Homo sapiens: one gene and its partners. Each later gene encodes a partner of the first gene's protein in a complex. Each region holds a gene or a part of one and is shown in the gene's direction. Other genes may lie near its edges.

Region 1 (5,413 bases):
GCGGGCGCCTGTAATCCCAGCTACTCAGGAGGCTGAGGTAAGAGGATCACTTGATCCTGGGAGGTTGCAGTGAGCTGAGATCGCACCACTGCACTCCAGCCTGGGCAACAGAGTGAGACTCGGTCTCAAAAAAAGAAAATTACATTTTTTGAAATTTCTCCATACCTGCCAATCTGAATCTTAATCCACTCATAGTTCAATTTTGTGTAATACACCTTGGATTCCATTTGTTCCCTTTAAAGATACTGCATGTTATGACAATTTTCCAGTAATTTTTAATACCTGTACTGAATCCTGTTTTGTGTCTTAGGTAAAATATAGAAACAAATTTTTTTTCTTACCAGAGAATGTATTTTTCCTCCAGAAAATGATTGTTTGACTAACTGGTTTGCATTTTCAGTAGATTTATTTCTGTATCTCAGTTGGCAGCATTGTCATCCTTATTCTCACTGTCACCCTAACCAAAAACCTGGGAGGTGAGCTTGACTTTTTCTCTCCTGATGTCCTTGACATTTGATACATTGCCAATTTTGCCAGTTTTACCTACTTCATAAAAGTGACCCACATTATCCTGTTTGGTTTTTGGGTTCAAATAGTGTGTTTTATACTGAGGGACACTGTGTTACTATTTGATATCCAAGTTTCACTAAGTGGAAAGAATTCAGACAGTGAAAGATTCATCTGAAAATAATTTGAATCCATTTGGTTCCTGGGCTCAGTTAGGGAGGGATAATTGTGTATTTGTCCTGCCCATAGTAGCCTTTCATTCCAGTCACCACCATTAAGTTCAGGCCCTTTTTATCCCACTCATGGATTTTTGTTTTCCTTCTTTAAGGTAAATATCTTATACAATGAAATGCAGTGTATATTTCCTGCTATTGAAAAATGTAAACACTTTTGTAACCTAAACCCATATCAACAGAAGTAACATTACCAAAACCTCAGACAGTTTCCTCAAGCCTTTCCCAGGCAACCTCTGGCTCCATACCCCTAGATGCAACCAGTTTCTTCCACCAGAAATGAATTTTGCCTGCGCTAGAATTTCATATATTTGGAATCACAAAGTATTTTTGCGTAAAACTTCTTTTAGTTACATGTTTTTGAGATTCATCCACATTGTGAAGTGTATCAGTAATGTGTTCATTTTTATTACTGGATATTAGTGCATTGTGTGTTTGGAAGTTCTGTATTTTAGGCCGGGCGCAGTGGCTCACGTCTGTAATCCCAGCACTTTGGGAGGCCGAGGCGGGTAGATCACCTGAGGTCAGGAGTTTGAAACCAGCCTGACCAACATGGTGAAACCCCATCTCTACTAAAAATACCAAAAAAGTAGCTGGGCATGGTGGCAGGTGCCTGTAATCCCAGCTACAAGGGAGGCTGAGGCAGGAGAATCCCTTGAACCCAGGAGGTGGAGATTGCAGTGAGCTGAGATCACGCCATTGCACTCCAGCTTGGGCAACAGAGCGAGACTCCGTCTCAAAAAAAAAGAAAAAAGAAAAAAAAAGCTCCGTATTTTAAAAAATTACAAGAAAATAAAATAAAAAGTTATGTATTTTGTTTACAACTACGTTGAATATTCTTCAGGTTTTTGGAGGGAAACAAATTTTCGTGGGTAAATACTCGAGTGGAGTTGATGGACTGTAACATAGTTATGTGTTTAGCTTTTTAAGAAATTTCCAGACCATTTTCCAAAGTGGTTGTACCATTTTACACTTCCATTAACAATATATTAGAATAACAATTGGTCCACATCCTCACCAGTATGTGGTGTTGTTTGCTCAGTCTTTAATTTTAGCCATTTTAGTGGGTATGTAGTGGTATCTCCTTAGGGTTTAGTCGGTTTTTTGCTTATTTGTTTGTTTTTGAGGCGGAGTCTCACTCTGTCACCCAGGCTGGAGTGCAGTGGCATGATCTTGGTTCACTGCAAGCTCCGCCTCCTGGGTTCACGCCATTCTCCTGCCTCAGCCTCCCGAGTAGCTGGGACTACAGGCGCCTGCCACCACGCCCGGCTAATTTTTTGTATTTTTAGTAGAGACGGGATTTCACCGTGTTAGCCAGGATGTTCTCAATCTCCTGACCTCGTGATCCGCCCGCCTTGGCCTCCCAAAGTGCTGGGATTACTGGCGTGAGCCACTGCGCCCAGCCCAGAGTTGTAGAAATTAGATCTGTGTCCTGGATACCAGTTCTTTGTCAGATGTGTTTTCTCTCAGTGTGTGGTTTACATGTTCATTTCCTTAATAGTGTCTCTCTTCTTGTAGCTCAGGCTGGAGTACAATTGTGCGATCTCAGCTCACTGCAACCTCTGCCTTCCAGGTTCAAGCGATTCTCCTACCTCAGCCTCCCAAGTAGCTGGGATTACAGGCGCCTGCCACCACGCCTGGCTAATTTTTGTATTTTTAGTAGAGACAGGGTTTCACCATGTTGGTCAGGCTGGTCTCGAACTCCTGACCTTGTGATCCACCCGCCTTGGCCTCCCAAAGTACTGGGATTACAGGCGTGAGCCACCATGCCTGACTGATCGATTTTTATGTATCTGGAACTCTTTAAGTCTTTTTTTTTTTTTTTGAGATGGAGTCTTGCTCTGTTGCCAGACTGGAGTGCAGTGGCGCACTCTCGGCTCACTGCGACCTCCACCTCCCAGGTTCAAGTGATTCCCCTGCCTCAGCCTCCCGAGTAGCTGGGACTACAGGCATGTGCCACTATGCCTGGCTTATTTTTTTTGTATTTTAGTAGAGATGGGATTTCACCACTTTGGCCAGGCTGGTCTCGATCTCCTGACCTTGTGATCTGCCTGCCTTGGCCTCCCAAAGTGCTGGGATTACAGGCGTGAGCCACTGTGCCCAGCCTATATCTGGAACTCTTGGGCTCAAGTGACTATCATCCATCTTGGATTACTTTTGGAAAATGGTGTTAGTGGTCCAGGTTCGTTTTTTTTCTGTATGGATTTCCAGTTATTCCAGCATCATTTGTTGAAAACACTTTCCTTTGCCTGTTACACGTCTTTGGCACCTTTGTAAAAAATCAACCATATAAGGCCAGGCTTGGTGGCTCATGCCTGTAATCCCAGCACTTTTCGGAATCCAAGGCAGGCAGATCACCTGAGGTCAGGAGTTCGAGACCAGCCTGACCAACATGGTGAAACCCCGGCTCTACTAAAACAAAAAGAAATACAAAAATTAGCTGGTTGTGGTGGCGAGTGCCTGTAATCCCAGCTAAATCAACCATGTAAATGTGGGACCAGAAATAGATCTGTTTGCTTGTATTGTTTCATTGATCTATTTGTTGTTCCTTATGTCTCGATTACTGTAGTTTTAACTTGTATATGTACTGCTCTAGTCACATAATTTGTCTTCCTAGAGATTATACTTTGGTCTCTTGTCTTTCTAAAATCTGTTTCTGAACATTGGCCCTAGGTTCTCTTTTAAATGTGAATATGAGCCTGGTACTCCACTTCATTGATGAAAATCCTTCAGTAGCTCTCCTAGAGGAATTCTTTAACAGAGCTTAGGCTTTCCATGAAAGGAACCTGCCTAACTCCTCTCTACTCATAGGACCTAAAATATTGAACTTAACATTTCATCGGCCAGGCGTGGTGGTTCATGCTTGTCATCGTAGCACTTTGTGAGGCCGAGGCAGGCAGATCACTTGGGCCAACATGGTAAAACCCCGTCTCTACTAAAAATACAAAAATTAGCTGGGTGTGGTGGCATGCGCCTGTAGTCTCAGCTACTTGGGAGGCTGAGGCACAAGAATCTCTTGAACCCGGGAGACGGAGGTTGCAATGAGCTCAGATTGAGATTGCGCTATTGCACTCCAGCCTGGGCAACAGAACAAGACTCCATCTTTGTATCTATAATTACTCTGTGTCTTATGCTGTATTTTTTCTTTTGTTTCTTCTTGCTGCATATTTCCAACTTTTCAGGCTTCTTACTAGGAGTCCCCTAATACCTGACTCCCCTCTCCACATGCTACAATATATTCTTAGTAAAAAACCTGTGTGTAGCTGGGTGCAGTGGCTCACGCTTGTAATCCCAGCACTTTGGGAGGCCAAGGCAGGCTGATTGCTTGAGCTCAGGAGTTTAAGACTAGTCTAGGCAACATGGCAAAACCACATCTCTACAAAAAATTTAAAAATTTAAAAAATATTAGCCGGGCATGGTGGCATAGTCTCAGAAAAAACCTAAACTAAAAACCTCTGTTTAAAAAAAAACACAAAAAAAACCTCTGTATATCTTTATTGCTTTCTACAACTTAGTTATTTTTACGTATCTTTTATGTATCTGAGCCACCGCGCCTGGCCACATAAGGTTTTTTTTTTCCTTTTATTTATCTTCTTTGCTTCCAAAAATGATTTGAAGAACTTTTATAGTAAAAGTTCTTACTAACTGGGATAGTAAATTCGTGTAAAAGATAAAAACAAAAACTTGATAATGGGAGGAAACCATTAGTTCAGAATTCTAGGCTTTTCTAGTTATAATTGATTGTTAAATTTGGAGCTGAATAACTCTCTGGTGAAATAAAGTGTTACCAATTCGTTGAGAAAAACGTTTTCTTGATGTCATATATAAAAAGAGATTCAACTCATGAGTCTTCTTAAAGTTTGAGGCTTGTTATATCCCAGACCAAGTAATTTCTTTTTTGTGATGGCTGTCTATACCACTAAAAAAAAAGAAATTAAAAAAAGGCATTTTAAGGTTGGTTTCCCTTTATTCATTAAAACATTTCAGCCAACATTATTCAGTGCCTATTACAGTCTAGGATTAGATATAGAGCTTACGATCCCTACCCTCAAGAATAGTCTAGTGCGGGAGGATAATAGGTTATCTTATGTGTACCATTTAGTGTGATGATAGGATCTGTTAATTCAAAGTATATATTATAGACTAAAAGTTTTTATATGAACTGTGTATTGTATGATAGTGTGGGGTTCATTTTCTTAGATGTGATTGTGAGATTATGGTTATATAGGAGAATGTCATTAGAAAATGCATGCTGAAGTGTCGTAATGCCTACAACTTACTTTGAGATGGTGTGATCAATTTTTTTTCGTTTGTTTTTTTGACAAAGTCTCACTCTATTGTCCAGGCTGGAGTTTAGTGGTGCAGTCTTGGCTCACTGCAACCTCTGCCTCCCAGGCTCAAGCAATTCTCCTGCCTCAGCCTCCCCAGTAGCTGGGATTACAGTCAAGTGCCACCAAGTCTGGCTAATTTTTTTGTATTTTTAGCAGAGACGGGGTTTCGCCATGTTGGCCAGGCTGGTCTCGAACTTCTGACCTCAGGTGATCCGCCTGCCTCGCCCTCCCAAAGTGCTGGGATTACAGGGATGAGCCACCACACCTGGCGAAGACTGTCTTTAAAAAAAAGGGCCAGGCCTGGTGGCTTACGCCTGTAATCCCAGCACTTTGGGAGGCCAA
Region 2 (4,464 bases), on another chromosome or scaffold:
GCTTCCTTCACCTCCACCGCGATGGTCCCGGAGACCACACATGAAGCAGGTAGCCACCTTGGCCTCTGTAGCCACCTGCCATGTGACCCAAAAGTGGCAGGGGGTGGGTGTGCTCCCCGACTCCCACTTTATTGGTCTGTCAGGGGCTCCCACTGTCACCTGAGCCCCTAGTCCTCCCCCTCTTAGCTGCTGAACCCCTGCCAGCCCCATGAGGCTGGGGTGAGCCTGTGCGTGGCCTAAGCAGACCCTCGGCCTCCAGCTCCCCTGCTCTCCCCAGAGCTGGAGCCTAGTCCCCGCCTGTGTGTCTGAGGTCGGTGCTGCCTGGCATGGTGGGGCTGCCCCAGGGTGAGGGCAGGGGCTGAGCTGGGACCTTGGCTTGTAGCTGCCATCGACGAGGATGTGCTGCGCTACCAGTTTGTGAAGAAGAAGGGCTACGTGCGGCTGCACACCAACAAGGGCGACCTCAACCTGGAGCTGCACTGCGACCTGGTGGGTGTGGAGGCCAGCCACTCCCCATGCCCCAAGGTCATCTCTGGGTCATCTGACAGCCATGTCTTAAATATAGGGCTGCCACTGGTATGTGCTTGTTGTAGGAAATTCAGCCTGTCACTAGGCGGGACCCGCAGCAGTGCCCTGTGTCCTTCCTAGGGGGCCGCGTTGGCAGCATGGCCTGCGCACAGGTGCCAGTGTCTCAGAGAAGGGGCCAAGCCGCACCTGCTGCTCTGCCCACACTTCTCCCATGCGCTGTACTCTGGGCCGTGCGGCTGCACGGGTCCTGTTGCTTAATGTTGTGGGTCCATCCGTGCCCAGTGTGGCTGGGCAGCTGACTCTGCTACATGTTAAAGACCAGCCTGGCCAACATGGGGAAACCCGTCTCTACTAAAACTACAAAAATTAGCCAGGCATGGTGGCGCATGCCTGTAGTCCTGGCTACTCGGGAGGCTGAGGCAGGAGAATGTCTTGAACCTAGGAGGCGGAGGTTGCAGTGAGCCAAGATCGCGCCACAGCACTCCAGCCTGGGCAACAGCAAGACTCCACCTCAAAAAAAAAAAAAAAAAAAAAGCCTCCTGTGGCTGTGGTGAGCTGCCTTTGGCAGCTCTCTGCTTCATACAAGTATTGGGGCTATGTTGCAGACACCAAAAACCTGCGAAAACTTCATCAGGCTTTGCAAGAAGCATTATTACGATGGCACCATCTTCCACAGATCCATCCGGAACTTTGTGGTGAGTGACGAGAGTCACTGGCTGCACAGATGAGCTTGGTGGGACATCGGGGGCTGGGTGGGCTTGTCCCTGCCCCATCCCAGGGCCCTGGCCCATCCCACGGTGGCCAGGATGAGTCCAGTTGGTGATCCTCTGTTGGGGAACCCATAGACTGACCCTTGAGGCCCCAGCCCATCCAGAACTGGGTTCACAAAGGGAGGTGGCTGGGAGGGCCCCTCATTATCACCAAGAGCCCAGCCCCTGTGTGGAGCCATCTGGCAGGAGGGGTGTCCTTCAGTCAGGCAGGCGGTGGGCCTCGGGTCTCAGAGTGTGACTTGCTCACTGGCTTTTGTTTTCACAGATCCAAGGGGGCGACCCCACAGGCACAGGCACGGGTAGGTACTGGTGCTGGGCCCCTCTCTGGGCACTTTGGCTGCTCCGTGGGGCATGAGGGGGTAGCTGGGCAGGGGTTGTGCACAGCTCAGACATGGAATCTGCTAGACCAGGGTGGAACGACTGGCAGCCATCAGTGCTGTGCCCCCTCAGGCCTGGCCCTCAGTTTTCTCATTTCCAGGTGGCTGTGAGGCCTGCATGGTAGAGGAGGCAAGAGTGTGTGGTCTCTTCCCTGGGCCCCTGGGGTCTGCCTCAGACTGAGGCCAGCCCTCCCTCCTGCAGCCTCTCCAAGCCCCTCAGCCTGGCAGCTGCTTGGGTCCAGATCCCCCAACCTCTGTATTCCCATAGCTTGAGTGATGATGATGGTGGCCTTGACTCTTTAATCCCTGTCCCGGGGCAGGCCCCAGGCGGGGCTGGGGTGAGTGGGCAGCAGCCTGCCTGTTTGGAGGCGTGGGGGCTCCAAGGGACCCAGGAGTTGGTGGCGTGGGGCTGGGAGCCTCCCTATCAAGTGCCCCTGCCCCAGGCTGGGCTCAGCAAGGCCCTGATGCCCCTCGGGACTCTGAGGTTTCTAGTTCTGCCTCGGCTGGGGCCCAGGCTTTCCTGCTCCCATGGGCCTTTCTCTTCCAGGTGGGGAGTCATACTGGGGGAAGCCCTTCAAAGACGAGTTCCGGCCCAACCTCTCGCACACGGGCCGCGGCATCCTCAGCATGGCCAACTCCGGGCCCAACAGCAACAGGTCTCAATTGTGAGTCAGCTGGGCTTGCTGGGGTGGCCTGGGAGGTGAGCCGGCACTCTCTGCGGGTTCTTCCTCTTGGCCCTCTCTGAAGGGTGTGCTGGTTCTGAATCATACCCAGACGGTGTACGGCACACCTAGGCCAAGCATGTGCACCTGCGTTCAAAAGGGGGTCCCCAGAGTGAGTCAGCAGGGAGAGCTGCCCGCACCGGGTGTGTCCTCGAGAGACCAGAAGTCGGGAATTACTGGAGGTCCAGAAGGGCTTCTTGACAGGGACCAGGCATTCGTGTGGGTGCCTGTGGCCAGGCAGTGCTGGGGGAGGTCAGCGTGTGGGAGGGGTTGTGCAGGGCACAGGCTGCACAGGGAGAGGCGCCTGGAGAGACACAGGAGGTCTGGCCCTGGTGCATGTGGGGAGCAGTGTGCAGTCTGGTGGCAGGAGGCAGGGGATGGGGGGCCAGCAGGGCCATGCACACAGGGGCCGGATGCCTGTATTGTGGAAGAACAGAGGTGCCCTTTCCATCCCCAGACAGTGGCCTGATGTTATGTTTCAGTCTTTCAATCGTTTTCTTCACATGGGTCCTGTGACTTCCGGGATAAAGCAACCTCTTAAGGATTTTTTATAGTTTATGATACTTTTGTAAATGGACTTTTTTTTTCCCAACTTTTGGGGATCATTGCTCATGTAGAGAAAAACTACCGTTCATTTTATATCTAGCCACTTTAACAAATTATCTTATAATTCAAAAGTTTTTAAGATTTTTTTGGGTTTTCTAGATAGTCACGCTTATCACCAAAAGCTGGTCTGCTCTCTGCTTCCCTGGTGTGCACATCAGTCACGTCACCGTCACGTCACCGTGGGCCTGATGGGGGAGGAGGATGTGGGCATCTTGCTGTGCTCCACAGAAATCGCTGTTTTGCCTTCTCAGAACATTTGTTGTTGGGCTGTTTTTAGGAGGGTGGCTGACTTTTTAGAGGTTTCTTTGTTAGCATCTACTATGATGATTCTGTCCTTTTTCTGGTCCTCCCGGGATTTGTGGATGTGGCCACTACAAGGCCAGAGTGGATGGGTGTCTCCGTGGCATTCTGGGGTGAACCCTGGCCTGTCGTGGCTTCGCCGTGGCCTTCTGCCAGCTCACTGTCACACGTGGTCTCGGTTGTGTGGACTGGCTCCAGCAGGTTTTGCTGTGACAGGTGTGGCCCCTGCATGTTACGAGCAGGGCTGGCTGTGGCTTTGTGGCCTGGAATGGTTAAAATCACAGGGATGGCCAGGCGTGGTGGCTCACACCTGTAATCCCAGCACTTTGGGAGGCTGAGGTAGGTGGATTGCCTGAGCCCAGGAATTCGAGAGCAGCCTGGGCAACATGGCAAAACCCGATCTCTACAAAAAATAAAAAAAATTAGCGGGGCATGGTGGCGTGCGCCTGTAGTCCCAGCTGCTTGGGAGGGTGAGGTGGGGGGATAATCTGAGCCTGGGAAGTCAAAGCTGCAGTGAGCTAGGATCGCGCCACTGCACTCTATCCTGGGCAGCAGTGAGACCCTGTCTGGAAAAAAAAAAAAAAATCAAACGAGTCAGCTGTGCTTAACAGCTGGGCAAAGGCAGCTGGCAGCTATTCGTGCCACTTCCTTGGGGCTTTCATTTCAGGGTTAACGGGCACTTGTTTCCATGAAGGCTGGTATTCTCTTGGCCTCGCTGTGCTGACCTTTTTTTCTCATGCCTAATCACACTTTCCATTCCTCAGTCCCTTAGTGGTCTTTGAAGGGTTTGTCTGTTTTCACTTCACTTTGAAGGGTTTGTAATTGTTTTCAGTTTCTGTCTTTGCTTCTTCATGGTGCTTTTCCTCCTTCCTCACTTTAATCCATGTGTGTTTCTGATAGCCACGTCTGTCATTTTGAGGGTGCATGTTCCCTCTTCACTGCTTGCTGGTTGTTGGTAGCTTCCCTTTCAATTTCTTCTCAGCCAAGGATTGCCTAGGACTGTTGGTTATTTTCAAGTAGGTTGGGTGCGTGGTTTGTTTTTGTTGTTTGGCAGGGGCCAGGGCAGGGAATCATTTTATTATTTTTTATTTCTCTTTGGCTTAACCAGCCTGTGAAACTGCTGACAGATCAGTTGCCACCTTCTCTTTTTTTTTTTTTTTT
Region 3 (4,464 bases), on another chromosome or scaffold:
TGACCTTGCAGTAGAGGAAGTTGTGATCACAGAGAGGATGATGTCATAGTGGGAGGACTCCTGGCAGGAAAGGGCCTTATAGATATTGCCAGTTTTCTGCTGTCATCCATAATGTGTCCTGAAAAGTTTGTATCAAAGGTAAATGTGTAGAAACTAAGTGAGACACAGCATGGTGAAGAGAGGTTAGTACCAGAAAGCCAAACATCCCTGATTACATTTGCCTTACAGAAACACTCTGATGCTGTAGTCCTAACTTTTTATAATCAGTTTTTCTCCCTTCCTCAAACTACAGTCATTCCGTTTAAGACCAAAGAACATCTAACTGGGGCTGAAGATTGCCTCCTGTTGGCCCCCTCACTGGTTTCTATCTTTGTCTGAATTGTTTTCGGTTTGAGTCCTGTGCTTCTAAATGCTGGATTAGCCTTTTATTTTCCCCCTTTCCACTAATTTGAATAAAATGGCAAGAGTAAAATATAAGCTACGCAGACATCTCCCTAGTGCATCTATATTAACAAAGATGATAATGCTGCCTAAGAGGACTTTCCAGCTGGATTCTGCTGCAGGAAGATACGATGTGGGGTCAGCATGTAGCATCCAAAGAGGCCCAGATTTGAGTATGTCATTGTTTTGGTTGTGCATTGCAGAGGGAAGGTAGAGGGTGCATCCTGAGGTTCTCATGCCTGCCTGTCAGGGGATTTTTCCCTTGTAGGGATTGGTAGAGAAAGGGGTTGCTCCTCCAGCAAGATGAGGATTCGACTGTCCTTTCCCAACTCAGGTCCCTGAGCTGCGGAAGAAATCTCGCCGAGAGTACCTGGCTAAGCGGGAGCGAGAGAAGCTTGAGGACCTGGAGGCGGAGCTGGCTGATGAGGAGTTCCTTTTTGGGGACGTGGAGCTGAGCCGGCACGAGCGGCAGGAGCTCAAATATAAGCGGCGAGTGCGGGATCTCGCCCGGGAGTACCGGGCAGCTGGGGAGCAGGAGAAGCTGGAGGCCACCAATCGCTACCACATGCCCAAGGAAACCCGAGGACAGGTGAGGTGAAGCGGCGTCTGCTTCAGCCTTGGTCCCCAAGACAAGTTGTGGGGAAGGCTTCAGGGGATTGGGCAACACGTGGGTCATCCCCTTTCTTGCCTTGCCGTTCCCAATGGGCAGTGGGCGGGGGTAGTAATGGGAAGAGGGGAGAGGGCAGAGAGGACATCCTGTTTTTGAGTCTTCACATATCCCCTCTCTCTGTAGCCAGCCCGAGCTGTGGATCTAGTGGAGGAGGAATCAGGAGCCCCTGGGGAGGAGCAGCGGCGCTGGGAGGAGGCGCGGCTTGGGGCAGCGTCCCTGAAGTTTGGGGCCCGAGATGCTGCCTCTCAGGAGCCCAAGTATCAACTGGTGCTGGAGGAGGAGGAGACCATTGAGTTTGTCCGGGCCACTCAGCTCCAGGGTGATGAGGTAAGAGGGGAGCTGGGAGACTTTCTGAGGAAGACCCGTAGCGAGCTATTTAGCTCACACCTCCTTCTCTTTCCTTAGGAGCCGTCAGCTCCACCCACTTCAACTCAGGCCCAGCAGAAAGAGTCCATCCAGGCCGTCCGCCGCAGCCTCCCGGTGTTCCCATTTCGAGAGGAGCTCCTGGCTGCTATTGCAAATCACCAAGTCCTCATCATTGAAGGCGAGACAGGCTCAGGGAAGACCACCCAGATCCCGCAGTATCTCTTTGAGGAGGTACAGTCATCTCACCCTTCAGCTTGCCAGGGCACCTGGCATCAATGTCCTCATTCCTGTCAGAGCTCCTTTTACATTATATTTTTAGTAGTCACTTACCTATCTTTTCCACTAAATTGTGAAATTCTTGAGAGTAAAGACCATACCCTTTTCACATTTCTGTTCTCACTTCCTGCATTCATTTCATTTGGAAGGACGGGTAGATGGATAGGTGGAGTGGGGCGTGTATAAATGTGGACCTCCCTATGCTCCAACGTGGCCAAAAAACAAGGAGTTAAAGGACTATTTTCCTGCCTTTTTGTTAGTTTTTTTTTTTTTTTTTTGGAGACGGAGTCTTGCTCTGTCACCCAGGCTGGAGTGCAGTGGTGCGATCTTGGCTTACTGCAACCTCTGACTCCTGGGTTCAAGGAATTCTCCTGCGTCAGCCTTCAGAGTAGCTGGAATTACAGGCATGCGCCACCACACCTGGCTAATTTTTTAGTAGAGATGGGGTTTCACCATGTTGGCCAGGCTGCTCTCGAACTCCTGACCTCAAGTGATCCAGCCACCTCAGCCTCCCAAAGTGCTGGGATTACAGGTGTGAGCCACTGTGCCTAGCCCCTGCCTTATTTTGGAGACAGGCTCTTGCTCTGATGCCCAAGCTGGAGTGATGTGGCACCATCATGACTCACTGCAACCTGGGACTCCTGGGCTCAAGAGATCATCCCACCTCAGCCTCCTGAGTATCTGGGAGGTGCACACCACCATGCCCATATTAAACATTTTTTGTTTTTTTTTGAGGTGGAGTCTTGCTCTGTCACCAGGCTGGAGTGCAGTGGCGCGATCTTGACTCACTGCAACCTCCACCTCCTGGGTTCAAGTGATTCTCCTGCCTCAGCCTCCTAAGTAGCTGGGACTACAGGTGCGTACCACCACACCCAGCTAATTTTTGTATTTTTAGTAGAGATGGGGTTTCACCATGTTGGCCAGGATGGTCTCAATCTCCTGACCTCGTGATCTGCCCACCTCAGCCTCCCAAAGTGCTGGAGTTACAGGTGTTAGCCACTGTGCCTGGCCTGAAATTTTTTTTTTTTTTTTTTTGAGACAGAGTCTTGCTCTGTTGCCCAGGCTGGAGTGCGGTGGCATGATCTTGGCTTACTGCAACCTCTGTCTCCCAGGTTCAAGCGACTCTCCTGCCTCAGCCTCCCAAGTAGCTGGAAATACAGGCATGCACCACCATGCTCGGCTAATTTTTTGTATTTTTAGTAGACGGGGTTTCACCATTTTGGCCAGGCTGGTCTCGAACTCCCAACCTCAGGAGATCCGTCTGCCTCGGCCTCCCAAAGTGCTGGAATTGCAGGTGTGAGCCACTGTGCCTGGTCAAAATTTTGAATTTTTAATTTTTTTGTCACACTATGTTGCCCAGGCTGGTCTCGAACTCCTGAGCTCAAGCCATCCTCCCACCTCAGCCTCCCAAAGTACTAGGATTACAGGCATGAGCCACTGTGCCCAGCCTTCCTGCTTTTTTACCTTAGCTGGCTCTGTCTCAGCTAATCTGTTCTTTTCCAGCTCAAGTCTAGCAGAGTCATGAACTTAATTACCCAGAGCTGGGTGAGGACCCCCTTTGAGGGCCCTAGGTCTGTCATCCTATCTATTTGCCCTTCTTTTCTGGTTTTCAGCATCTGTCTTTTCCTCCTTTTCTCCTGCCTGGTTTTTACAACTTCTTTCTCTGAAATGTACCTGGTCCCAGGGTGCATATTTAGTAAAGGGCAAACTTCTTCTTTTTTCTTTGTCATTCAGGGTTATACAAACAAGGGTATGAAGATTGCCTGCACCCAACCCCGGAGAGTGGCTGCCATGAGTGTGGCCGCCCGAGTGGCCCGGGAGATGGGTGTGAAGCTTGGGAATGAGGTGAGATTTCTAGGGAACCGGGGGGTAGAGTCTGGGGTCTGTGACTCAGTCTACAGTTCCCTCAGGTCCCTACAGCAGAAGTCTTGGTGCTGCCCCACTTCACCTTTCCCCAAGTTCCTTTCAGGGCACACCAGCCCACACTTGGTTGCTAATGGTTCCCTTGACCAGGTTGGCTACAGCATCCGCTTTGAGGACTGCACATCAGAGCGAACTGTCCTCCGCTACATGACAGATGGGATGCTTCTCCGGGAGTTCCTCTCTGAGCCTGACCTGGCGAGTTACAGGTATCTCTAATCTCTGGCCTTTCTCTCCCTTCTTCCCACCCAGCCAATTCAGCCATTGTCTTCTGATTAATCCACCCGTTCTTGAATCTTTGTGGTTCAAATGGTCCTTGAACTGACCTCCAGGTACCACGGAGATGGGGCTGGAGGACAGAAGAGATTGTAGAGAAAGCCTCTTCTTTCCCCATTCATCTCCAGGGTTTAGAAAACAACCAGGATAGCAGAGCATTGCTGCCGAGACTTGAAATACCGTGTGAAGACCATTTGAAAACACTTGGAATGCTCAGCTCAGAGGGAGAAACAGGAAGCATCCTGGTTCCCTCTAAATATGTGAAGGCTGTTACATGGAAAGAAGGATCAGATTGTTTTATGTGACCCTACACGACATAGCTAGGAGCCATGGGGAGGTTACAGGGAGACAGATTCCAACTCAATACCAATGGCTGAGTAACCCTCAGAGTGGTGGAGATTGCAGGGCCTGTCAGAGTGGTTGGACTCTGGGTCTTGGCCCTCCACACAAGTCTTGGGTAGCTTGGTCTGTGAATAATGAGCTCTTAGTGCTGGAAATGGCCAAGCAGGGGTTGG
Region 4 (4,464 bases), on another chromosome or scaffold:
AGCTGAGACTACAGGCATACACCACCATGCCTGGTTGATCTTTGTGTTTTTTGTAGAGACTGTGCTTCACCTTATTGTCCAGGCTGGTCTCGAACTCCTGGGCTCAAGTGATCCTCCAGCCTCGGCCTCCCAAAGTGCTAGGATTATAGATGTGAGCAACCACCCGGCCCCTGGAAGAATTTTTTTTTTTTTTTTTTTTCGAGACGGGGTTTCACTCTTGCCCACTCTTTTGAGTGCAGTGGTGTGATCTTGGCAGCCTTGATCTCCCAAGCTCAAGCAGTACTCCCACCTCAGCCTCCCCAGTAGCTGGGACTATGGGCGTGTGTGACCACAATGTCTAATTTTTATGTTTTTTGTAGAGATGGGATTTGGGTATGTTGCCCAGGCTGGTCTCGATCTCCGGAACTCAAGCAGTCCACCCGCCTCAGAAGATTTTTTTAAAAAAATGAATGTAATATAAAATGAAAGAGGGGTGCAGAAGTGGACATAGTGACTCGAACCTTCACTGAGGAGTGAGGACTTTGCTGTCTGGGCTGCAGGGTTGAGGGAGAAGTTTTTTAAAGAGGGGAGATGGTAATCATTGTGTGTGGCTGGGCATCTGCGACAGGAGGGAAAGCAGAGGGTGCTGGTGCCCGTGTGGGGGTCGCTGGATTCAGTGCTGGCAGCATGAGTGAGTTCTCTTCCCATGTCACGGAACCTGCTTTCTTGGTGAAGCAGGAAGCGAGAAGCTGGGCTGTGGGAAGTCAAAAGCGTGGGCCACCTCACCACCCTGCGGGTTCTAGAAGTGCTGTCTAGAGTCCTGAAACCGGAGTTTGTCGGGGGAGGGGCAGGTGGCAGGAGGGAGCCTGGAGGAAGGAGTTTGAGGCTGAGGTAGTGTGTGAGGGGCTTTGGAGGGGGATTGGCACAGGCCTGGTCAGGAAGGCCCTGTAGGATGTTGGGTATTCATTCAAAGGGCATCCAAACCCATTGATGGGTTTGGAGCAGAAGAGTGACCCCAGTGAAAGAGGTGCAGAGTGGAGTTAGGCGGCAGATAGCAGCTGGGCCTGCATGGGCTGTGGGCGTGGCCTGTCTGGCTGCTGCCAGGGAGGACCCTTAGGTTCCTGGGTCTCAATGGCATCACCCCAGAAACTGCTGGGTTTGCCCACAGCCGCTCCCTCCCCCAGGTGGTGGAGATTGTGAAGAAGCTGGAGTCTCGCCAGCGGGGCTGGGAGGAGGATGAGGATCCCGAGCGGAAGGGGGCCATCGTGTTCAACGCCACGTCCGAGTTCTGCCGCACCTTGGGGGAGATCCCCACCTACGGGCTGGCTGGCAATCGCGAGGAGCAGGAGGAGCTCATGGTGCGTCTGGGGCGGCCCCGCCCTCTGCTTCCCTCGGCTGGGTGGGCTGGCTGGGGCCTGGGCCGACCCTGGTCTTTTGTGCCCCAGGACTTTGAACGGGATGAGGAGCGCTCAGCCAACGGTGGCTCCGAATCTGACGGGGAGGAGAACATCGGCTGGAGCACGGTGAACCTGGACGAGGAGAAGCAGCAGCAGGATGTGAGGGCCGCGCCGCTGGGGGGTGGGCGTTTGGGGGTGCTCAAGCTGGAGATGAGCACCGGGCTCGGTGTCCAGAGCCTCAGCCTCCTCATCCAGAGTGGGCTCTGCAGACCTCCCAGGGCGATCTGAGGAGTAAATGAGGAAATTAAATGTTGTGGAGGGCTGGTGCCTGGCAGGTGGTGACCAGTGGGTGGGGCTGAGAAGAGCCGGTATGGCCTGCTAACCACCCCCGCCACGTGTCCCGTAGTTCTCTGCTTCCTCCACCACCATCCTGGACGAGGAACCGATCGTGAATAGGGGGCTGGCAGCTGCCCTGCTCCTGTGTCAGAACAAAGGTAGGGAGCTCAGGGCAGCCATGACTTGGGTGGGCTTGGGTGCTGCTGCAGGTGCAGGCAGGGCCCCCTCCGGTCCCCTCTGCTGCCCCTTTCTCTCAGTCCCAATGCTGGAGCCAGCTGTCCGGCCCAGAGCCACTCCTTCCCCTCCACTGTGGCATCTGTCCGTCTGCTCTGCCTTTGAGGCTCCACACCTGCTTGGGGAAGGAGAGGGGAGTTGAAACTGTTCCAGCTGTGGCACAGAGAGCCCTGGTGTTAGGACCCCAGCTCTGCCATTTCCCTGGCCAGTGACCCTTGGCAAGGGGCTCATTTCTGCATCTTTGCTTTGCCTGTAGAACAGGCCTGATGGCTTTCCAGAGGCAAGGAAAGGGAGGTGCCCCCACAGGGCCTGCTCTGCCTTCTCAGGCGGCCCTGGAGCTGTGGCTCTCGAGGGGTTGGGAGTCTCACAACCCCTCCATCCCTAGGGCTGCTGGAGACCACAGTGCAGAAGGTGGCCCGGGTGAAGGCCCCCAACAAGTCGCTGCCCTCAGCCGTGTACTGCATCGAGGATAAGATGTGAGTGTGGTGGGGCCTGTGCAGGGCTGAGGGGCCTGTGCCAGCTTGGAGCTTCGGGACCACAGCAGGCGGCAGCTCCTCACACTAAGGCCTCCTCTGTCTCGGGCCAGGGCCATCGATGACAAGTACAGCCGGAGGGAGGAATACCGAGGCTTCACACAGGACTTCAAGGAGAAGGACGGCTACAAACCCGACGTTAAGATCGAATACGTGGATGAGACGGGCCGGAAACTCACACCCAAGGAGGTGAGCAGGGCCTTTTGCAGGCGGAGGCCCGGCCTGCCACAGGGAGGCCAAGCCCAGGGCCATGCAATGCCCCGGGCCATGCAATGCCCCAGGGTCCTGGCTCCACCAGCCTCTGGCTGGGGGCCTGGTGAATGCCACGGATGGGGAGGGGGCCCTCAGGGCTGAGGAAGGCTGTGCCTCAGTTTGTCTCTAGTGGGCACAGCAGTCTCTTTGCAAGCCTGGCAGGAGGGTCAGACAGGCACTCGGGACCTCTGCCCTCCTGTCCTCACCTGCGTGAGCCCTTCACTGGCTTTCCTGGCCCGCAGGGCCATTCCAGCGTCCAGGCCCTTCCAGCACTCTCGTAGGCCGCCCGACCGTCCTGCCCTACCACTCAGCTGCCCCCTTGCTCTCTGGGGTTTGTCTCCCTGCAGCCCCAGCCCCAGCCCCAGCGTCCAGGCCCAGCCCCTGCGTGGCAGGTCTCCAGGTTCCCCATGCTCTGCCCCCATGGCAGCGCATCCACTAGCCAAGCTGGTCTCCCGGCCTCTGCTGGGGCCCTGCAGGGTGCCAGCGTCTGTGCTCTTTTCCCATCCCCTTCCCACTGCACCCCAGGCCTGGCATTGGGGTCAATCAACACCCGCCCTGTTATTATACACCTTGTGGGCACAGGTGGCTCCGGCCCCACCCAGGGCCCTGCATCTCCTCTCATGCCCCGCGTCCCCAGGCTTTCCGGCAGCTGTCGCACCGCTTCCATGGCAAGGGCTCAGGCAAGATGAAGACAGAGCGGCGGATGAAGAAGCTGGACGAGGAGGCGGTGGGTGCCCTTGGGGATGTGGGGGGCCCTGTGCCTGCCGGGGCAGGGGTGGCTGGTGTGTGGGGCCTGCTGCAGCCCTTTCTGAGTGGCCCCGACCCCTCAGCTCCTGAAGAAGATGAGCTCCAGCGACACGCCCCTGGGCACCGTGGCCCTGCTCCAGGAGAAGCAGAAGGCTCAGAAGACCCCCTACATCGTGCTCAGCGGCAGCGGCAAGAGCATGAACGCGTGAGTGGCTCGAGGCTGGTGGGGTAGGGTGTGGTGGGGAGGGGTGGCGTGGCCTGTGCCCGCCTCTGCAGCCTCACGCCCCTGTTCTTCTCTGCAGGAACACCATCACCAAGTGACAGCGCCCTCCCGCCCCGGCCCTGCCTCAACCTTCATATTAAATAAAGCTCCCTCCTTATTTTTTCCTCCCTGGTCGTGGTACAGATTCCAGGGTTGGATCTTTGGTTGGGTGTGGCACAGAGTCTGGCTCCTGCTAGGTGAGACCTGGCCATCAAATGACACAAACAACTAAACGATGGAAGAGAGAGCGAGCCCGGGTCCTCTAAGGCTCCTTCCTTCTCCCCTGGCTGTCGGTCACACCTCTGCAGGGCCGGCTCTCTGATAGAAAGTGGAAGGCGGTTTTAGAAACTCATCACCCTGCTCTCTCCTGGCCTCGGGGGCTGCACAGGTCACTGTCCTGTAATGTCTCCCGGTCAGGGCAGCCCAGGACTGCCCAGCCTGGTGGGCTGGGGATTGGGCTTTGGGTAGGGCACAGGTGCCACCTTCTGTCCTGGCTGTCCTGTGCCACCCTGGTCTGTGTCTAGAGGAGTGAAACTCCCAGGGTTGGGCTGGGAGTATTTGGTGCACGCGGTATGGGGAGGGCTGAGCTCAGTGCCTCCTGGGAGACTTGTCCCGTGTACAGTGACCCAGAAAGATGAGATTCCTTGGCCTGAACTCTGTGATAGAGTGTGACTGAGCTGCTGGGGGACATGTGAGCCTCAAATCCATAGAAAGACAAACGGCC

Evidence for each region.
Region 2: SNRPD1 (region 1) and PPIL2 share a complex: the UniProt entries of both Homo sapiens proteins name them as parts of the minor spliceosome.
Region 3: SNRPD1 (region 1) and DHX16 share a complex: the UniProt entries of both Homo sapiens proteins name them as parts of the minor spliceosome.
Region 4: SNRPD1 (region 1) and SART1 share a complex: the UniProt entries of both Homo sapiens proteins name them as parts of the U4/U6-U5 tri-snRNP complex.

Annotation. Positions count from the first base shown.
Region 1 is NC_000018.10:21,614,140-21,619,552, forward strand, and holds part of SNRPD1 (small nuclear ribonucleoprotein Sm D1), read left to right. Parts: intron 1-5,413. UniProt on the Homo sapiens protein: Plays a role in pre-mRNA splicing as a core component of the spliceosomal U1, U2, U4 and U5 small nuclear ribonucleoproteins (snRNPs), the building blocks of the spliceosome.
Region 2 is NC_000022.11:21,686,510-21,690,973, forward strand, and holds part of PPIL2 (RING-type E3 ubiquitin-protein ligase PPIL2), read left to right. Parts: coding exon 1-49; intron 50-382; coding exon 383-489; intron 490-1,133; coding exon 1,134-1,223; intron 1,224-1,563; coding exon 1,564-1,597; intron 1,598-2,222; coding exon 2,223-2,340; intron 2,341-4,464. UniProt on the Homo sapiens protein: Has a ubiquitin-protein ligase activity acting as an E3 ubiquitin protein ligase or as an ubiquitin-ubiquitin ligase promoting elongation of ubiquitin chains on substrates.
Region 3 is NC_000006.12:30,662,045-30,666,508, reverse strand, and holds part of DHX16 (pre-mRNA-splicing factor ATP-dependent RNA helicase DHX16), read left to right. Parts: exon of another isoform or gene 1-614; intron 615-775; coding exon 776-1,030; intron 1,031-1,234; coding exon 1,235-1,438; intron 1,439-1,516; coding exon 1,517-1,708; intron 1,709-3,487; coding exon 3,488-3,598; intron 3,599-3,766; coding exon 3,767-3,882; intron 3,883-4,077; exon of another isoform or gene 4,078-4,464. UniProt on the Homo sapiens protein: Required for pre-mRNA splicing as a component of the spliceosome. Contributes to pre-mRNA splicing after spliceosome formation and prior to the first transesterification reaction.
Region 4 is NC_000011.10:65,975,232-65,979,695, forward strand, and holds part of SART1 (U4/U6.U5 tri-snRNP-associated protein 1), read left to right. Parts: intron 1-1,147; coding exon of another isoform or gene 1,148-1,163; coding exon 1,164-1,337; intron 1,338-1,424; coding exon 1,425-1,535; intron 1,536-1,782; coding exon 1,783-1,870; intron 1,871-2,331; coding exon 2,332-2,422; intron 2,423-2,532; coding exon 2,533-2,668; intron 2,669-3,368; coding exon 3,369-3,458; intron 3,459-3,561; coding exon 3,562-3,683; intron 3,684-3,780; coding exon 3,781-3,799; 3' UTR 3,800-4,464. UniProt on the Homo sapiens protein: Plays a role in mRNA splicing as a component of the U4/U6-U5 tri-snRNP, one of the building blocks of the spliceosome. May also bind to DNA.